2 separate regions of the Homo sapiens genome follow, and region 2 is reported to be linked to region 1. Evidence: microRNA targets listed by miRTarBase, many of them from high-throughput screens and not tested one by one. Region 1 holds a microRNA gene; the other region holds the end of a gene's coding sequence.

Region 1 (3,000 bases):
AGCTTATTCCTGGGTCACCACCTCTAGGAAGCCCTCCCTGACTGCTAGTGGTTGGCTCAACTCCCATGTTTGGGTCCTCCAACCCTCATGCCCTGCATGGCCAGGATCTGCTCTTCTGCCTTGTCCTAGGCTATTGCAGAGCAGGGATCTGGCCTGTTTACTTCTAGCTTTGGGATGCCCAGCGCGAGCCAGTCCAGAGCCAAGACTCAGGAAATGCCCGCTGATGGCAGCCCGGCAGTCAGCCCCTGTCCAGACAACAGGGCAGTGGGAGGAGTGGGGAGGACCCGGGTAGGAGGAATCTGGTTATCTGGTTCCCACCAGCCTAGCAGCTTTGCCAAGCAAGAGATTAGAGGCTAGGTCCCCTATGCCTGTCTCCCTGTGGGGTTTTTTTTTTTTTGACTAAGTCTCACTCTGTTGCCCAGGCTGGAGTGCAGTGGCGTGATCTTGGCTCACTGCAACCACCATCTCCTGGGTTCAGCTGATTCTCTGCCTTAGCTGCCTGAGTAGCTGGGATTACAGGCACCTGCCATCGTGCCCGGCTCATTTTTGTATTTTAGCAGAGACGCGGTTTCACCATGTTGGTCAGGCTGGTCTTGAACTCCTGACCTCAGGTGATCCGCCCGCCTTGGCCTCCCGAAGTGCTAGGATTACAGGCGTGAGCCACCACATCCGGCCTCCCTGAGGGTTTTGAAGTGGCTGGCCTGGGCCCAGCTCTGAGGTAGGCCCTCAGTGGGGTGTGGGTGGGGCAGAAGGAGGAGCTGCTGGGAACAGAATGTGGGGGGCCCCAGTTCTTTGCATAGTCCAGCAAAGGGCCTTATCCTCTGGAGGGAGAGGAGGTAAGAATTCTACTGGGCCTGTAAGGACCAGGGAGACAGGGGTTGATGGTAGGCATGTGTCTGTGGTGGGGGTGAGGAGGGGGTTAGGTGCTCTGTTTGGTGGCCAGAGAATGTGGCAGAAGCTGGGGCTTCACCAGGAGAGAGGGCTGAGCGACTGGAGGAGTCCTGAATTAAAAGCCTCCTGTGCTTAAACGGAGTAGGGTCCCAGTTGTCACTCTCTGGGCCTTGGTGTTTGTTCTCAGATGGTGGTGGGGAAGGGGGCTGGGCCTTGTGGACCCGGTGACCAGCCAGCCCACGGTGACAGAGCCCCCGGCGCCCTTGCCTTCCCGCAGCATGTGGTCCTGTACCCGCTGGTGGCCAAGAGTCTCCGCAACATCGCGGTGGGCAAGGACCCCCTGGAGGGCCAGCGGCACTGCTGCGGTGTTGCACAGATGCGTGAACACAGCTCCCTGGGCCATGCTGACCTGGACGCCCTGCAGCAGAACCCCCAGCCCCTCATCTTCCACATGGAGATGCTGAAGGTGAGGGGCCACCGCGCCTGGTCTCACCAGGCCCCCACTGCCCAGCCTCAGGGCGGCGCTGGCCTGTCCACCCAGGGGTGGTGGGATCCGCAGGTGGACTGCTGGGGGAGCGGACAGAGACAAGAAAACCTGTGCAGGACCCTTGGCAGTACCCTGGGTCTCCTTTCCTCCTCCTTCACATCTCAAATGTCACCTCCTCCAGGAAACCGGCCCTGCCCACCCGGTCTCCTCATTCTCTGTCTCGCAGCAGCTCATTTCCTTTATAGCCTCTGCCGCACCTTGAAGTCCCTTGGAATTCATGGATTTCCTTGTCCATTTAGGGAACCTGCCATGCAGCATGATCTCTGCGAGGGCAGGGCTTTTCACCGTCTTGTTCACTGTTCTATTCTTAGCACTTGGCACAGTGCTGGGCACACAGGAGATGTGACATCGATGTTTGATGCTTTTTGAGTGACAAGTAGCTCTGCTGCTGGTGTGTGATGTCTGGGGGCCCAGCCAGCCCAGATGTGGGTCAGGTCTGCTGCTGACGGACGCAGCTGTGGTGTCCCCGAGCCCCGCTGTGATATGCCCCATGCCCTGCAGGTGGAGAGCCCTGGCACGTACCAGCAGGACCCATGGGCCATGACAGACGAAGAGAAGGCAAAGGCAGTGCCACTTATCCACCAGGAGGGCAACCGGTTGTACCGCGAGGGGCATGTGAAGGAGGCTGCTGCCAAGTACTACGATGCCATTGCCTGCCTCAAGAACCTGCAGATGAAGGTACTGCCTGGAGGCTGAGGGGGAGGATGGATGGAGGGGGGTGTGGAGCCAGGGGGCCCAGGTCTACAGCTTCTCCCCGCTCCCTGCCCCCATACTCCCAGGAACAGCCTGGGTCCCCTGAATGGATCCAGCTGGACCAGCAGATCACGCCGCTGCTGCTCAACTACTGCCAGTGCAAGCTGGTGGTCGAGGAGTACTACGAGGTGCTGGACCACTGCTCTTCCATCCTCAACAAGTACGACGGTGAGCACCGGGCCCTGGGCTGCCGGGGGCTGCGAGTGGTCAGAGAGTGGCCTTTCTCCTGTCACTGCTGGGGTCAAGACCTAGCCTTTCACAACCCCCATTCTGAGCTCCCACGGGGGCCTGACTAAATGCCTCTACTCGGCAGGGCTGTGGGCCCCATTGTGCCAATGAAGCATGAATGGTGTATTGGGGGTGGGGTGGCATCCTCAGGTCAGGGAGGGCTCTCTCTCCCCTGTGGGCCCATGGTGCCAGGAGACATGAGGGCAGGCAGCTGGCCAGGATCCCCCCTCATGCCCTTGCATGCCCACTGCCCACTGGCCTCCCCTGCAGACAACGTCAAGGCCTACTTCAAGCGGGGCAAGGCCCACGCGGCCGTGTGGAATGCCCAGGAGGCCCAGGCTGACTTTGCCAAAGTGCTGGAGCTGGACCCAGCCCTGGCGCCTGTGGTGAGCCGAGAGCTGCGGGCCCTGGAGGCACGGATCCGGCAGAAGGACGAAGAGGACAAAGCCCGGTTCCGGGGGATCTTCTCCCATTGACAGGAGCACTTGGCCCTGCCTTACCTGCCAAGCCCACTGCTGCAGCTGCCAGCCCCCCTGCCCGTGCTGCGTCATGCTTCTGTGTATATAAAGGCCTTTATTTAT
Region 2 (3,516 bases), not on the chromosome of region 1:
CATACAACTCATATTCTGAACAATCTTGCCCTGTGGTTTGCTAAGGTTTTGGATATTCACAAGAGAGTAGAGAACCAAAGAGAGTACAGAAAGATGAAGAAAAATAGAGATTGTGGTATCCAGCCTGGTCTGATGGAGTACCCTGGTTTTCACCAAGTTAAGGTACTCAGTGAATTGAAAAATTATTCTTGGAGTTGAACTTACAGGCCTCTGATGAGATTTTGGAAAGCATCAGGAAGGAAACAAGAGTCCAAAGAAGGAAGGAGAAGATGAGCTTGCTCAGGGCTATGTCAGGTGCAGTTGAGATAACCTAGCAATAACAGCCTGAGTTACAAGGAATTTTCTTTCTCTCCCTAAAGCTAAGGGGAAGGTACTGATAATGATGGACTGGGTAAGTTTTAAAATGCAGCTTGCCTTAGGATTTACTATCTCTTGGTTCTTATTTCAGAGCAAAAGTAACCTGAACCCAGATGCCAAGGAGTTTATTCCAGGAGAGAAGTACTGAGCCGAGAAAGCTTTGAGGAAGACTTGTCTGTCCCCACATCTGGGGATAGTAATGCACAAAATGGTGGAGCTGAAGAGGGGGATGGGGCGGGCGAGGGGTGCACAGCGGGAAGGGGAGTGGTGGTCTCACAATACTGTGACTCTGAGTAACTAATATGCTCAGTCTTATTCTAAGCCTCTGAGTATTTCTATTTTGTTCTGCTGACTTTTGTTTGGGGAGTTTCCTGTTTTGTTTTTTTAAATAGCTCTTTCGAGTTAAGGAAATTGCATTTTCCCCCCTTCATCAGAAGTGTTCCGCGGTGTGTATTTAAACAAAATAAGCTGACTAAGAAAAACTGGATATTTAGGAAATGCCCCTCTCACCCTGCTGTATACTTATCAGGGACAGTGAGCACCTGGAGAGCTTTTTGTGGAATCTATTGAGTTGGATGGGAAAAGGGACAAGCAGAAAGAGCAGGTGGTGCAAACTGGAATTTGAGGCTCAGCTGCCCCACCCCCGGGGTCTCCTGCAATGAACTCGGATAACCAATGTGCTGTCAAGCCCTTGCCTGTTTGTCCTGAACCCCATTCAAGAAAACACAGACTTAAAGTACTTAGTTTACAGTAACTTTTGATGATTGTTGAAAGTTGTAAATCAGAAGGTAGGGCTGTGATGGTGGTTGTCACTTGAGTCATTTAGTTACTGTTGTCCTGTTCATAAGCCTGTGTTCACCACCACCATCAGACTCACCATTTATAAGTAGAAGAGCACTAGGGTTGATCTGCCACCTCATCTTTCATGAAGTCTATTCCCCAGCCTCCTTTTTAAGAAAAGATACTGCTACCAAAGGCATAGGGGAGGCCTGCTGTGCTGGCAATTAGCATGAGCCTGCAGAAGTCATCCTTGAATCTGTTGTGTCTTAATTTTATTTGGACAGTTTTTTTTTCCAGCCTCATCAACACTTGGTCTTCCTGGTGTCTTAATTCCCTCAGACAAGTTTATGCACTTTTTTAAGGAAATATTTTTCAGGACACTAGTAAGAAGCTCAGTTCACAGTTTGGATATTTCTTCCCACATTACAGAATTATGGAAAGGAACTCAAAATCAGCCTAGGAAAGTGAGTCCTGCTTGACCCATGTGACTGTGTACCTGACCTTCTGGGATCTTTTCAGCTATTAAAACATTTTACTGTTCCCACATACCCAGCTTTGCAAGTTTTGTAGATTGACCTCTTAGGGTGTGTTTCTTTGTCTTTCCTGCCTTTAACTTGCTGGGGTCTTTTGTTGCTACCCCTAAGGAACTAAACTGGGTGCCAGGAGCTACCTTCGTGTATAGAGATGTAGATGGCAGTGTGGGGTACAGGAGAGCCATCCAGGCCATTCTCCCAGGGATGAGGAATTGGAGAGCCCTGAAGATAATAGTGGCTTCTTTCTGATTGCTACTGTGCTGTGTGATAGGCCTAATAGGGAAAAGATATGTAACTTGAAACAAAGTTGGTATAAATTCAGTATGTGGCTGTGGGACAGAGGTTGGAAGGAAAGGACTAGGGTATGGAAAGCTGAAGAAATTCTCCTTATGAGCTCTCGTTGACTTTTTGAACAGTGATAAGCTAATGCCAGATTTAAAATACACATTTTTTCCTATTTGAGTCTTTAGGATTATATCATTTGAAAAAATTGCCTTCCTTGTTAGGTCACATGTCATAGGAGAGTAGCTTAGAGAACTTGCATTACCAGACAGACACATTAATTCCCAAAGCCTCTATGTTGAGAGAATGAAACTGTTAACTCTTTTTCAGAGAGGACTATGAATAAAGAAACTTCTTTATTCAAGCTTCAGCTTTCAGCTGGGTTGTTTCCTCTAAAAGGGAAAGGGCATTGCAAGTGCATAGAGGAAATCTCTCCCTTCTGGGACTGCTTTTCCTCCTTCATCCTCGTGAGCCTGTCCAAGCTCAGAATTCCGAAGGCTGTTAGAAATGCGTTGGGATTGCAGAGAGAAAGGAGCTTGTCTTTCCTTCTGCTGTGCTGGTCTGTTTTGGATGTCAGTCTTCAGGACTATGAAAACTTCCTGCCAGTTTAGCATGGACACTGAGGGCTGGCATTTCTAGTCTTCTTCAGACACTGAACATACTGACTCCAGGTATAGGAAGCAGCTAGCAAATTGATTCTTTTTTAAATGCATAGGACTCTGCTTCCGGCGGTTCCTCTTGTAGTCCAACTCTTTTTGCCATCTATTTATGTTGGGAGGTAGGGGCACAATTGTCACTCACAACACAGGCTAGTTAGAGTTTGCTACCTTCTTAGCAGAAAATGCATGTGTGTCTTGTTGGACCTTCACTGGGGAAAGGCTGGGAGCCTCTGGCTGTCAGTGACTTTTCTCACAGAAGAAGAACCAGCAAGCCAGACTGGACACCTTTACCCTTTAATGGTAAGACTTGTATTTATAAGGGGTAATTTTGATGTTGAATTTAAGCCACTACTTTGTTTAAACTTTTTTAAATTGGCAACTAGAAGTTTGAGAATTTGTATAGAAATGGAACATGTATTTCTAACAGTTGCCAATCTGGCTGGTCCCAATGTTAGTTTATTAGTGATTGATCTGTAATTATTGGGATTATTTATTCAACTCTAAAATTCCAAGATGAAAATAATTTATCTCTTTCTTTTCAAGGGAAAAAACCCAAATGAATGCATTTTCAGTTTCTCCAGGCCTTTGAACTGCAGCAGAAAATTCAAGGATACAGCCTAGGCCTGGGCAAATGCAGCCCTGGGTCTTTGGGCCAGTTTCTGACAATAATAGTTGAGTTTTGGGAATCACATAAGGGTGAAACCAGAAACGATCCTAAGGAAAGGCTTGACCTTTGTTAACACCTTTAGTTTCCAAAGTCACAGCAGCTGGGGTCCCTCTTTTTTTTTTTTTTTTCTTTTTTTTTGAGACATAGTCTCACTCTGTCACCCAGGCTGGAGTGCAGTGGTATGACCATAGCTCACTGCAGCATCAAATTCCTAGGCTCAAGCAATCCTCCCATCTTA

Evidence for each region. Region 1 holds the annotated microRNA hsa-miR-6752-3p (UCCCUGCCCCCAUACUCCCAG, at 2,197-2,217, shown strand). A microRNA usually pairs through its seed, bases 2 to 8, with sites in the 3' UTR of a target mRNA and lowers its output. Matches are read on the target gene's strand: a 7mer-m8 pairs with bases 2 to 8, a 7mer-A1 pairs with bases 2 to 7 and ends in A, and an 8mer does both.
Region 2: the mRNA of PAIP2B is a reported target of hsa-miR-6752-3p. The part of its 3' UTR that is shown has no 7-base or 8-base seed match.

What each region holds. Positions count from the first base shown.
Region 1 is chr11:67,488,099-67,491,098 of GRCh38, forward strand. It overlaps MIR6752 (microRNA 6752), which reads left to right and starts at 2,147; the gene lies at 2,147-2,217. AIP (AHR interacting HSP90 co-chaperone) reads left to right here. Exons shown (of 6, transcript NM_003977.4): 3 at 1,169-1,357; 4 at 1,940-2,116; 5 at 2,218-2,359; 6 at 2,690-3,000. The coding sequence ends at 2,895.
Region 2 is chr2:71,185,468-71,188,983 of GRCh38, reverse strand. It overlaps PAIP2B (poly(A) binding protein interacting protein 2B), which reads left to right. Exons shown (of 4, transcript NM_020459.1): 4 at 449-3,516. The coding sequence ends at 505. Among named protein-coding and RNA genes, the nearest start is that of PAIP2B, 40 kb to the left of the region's middle.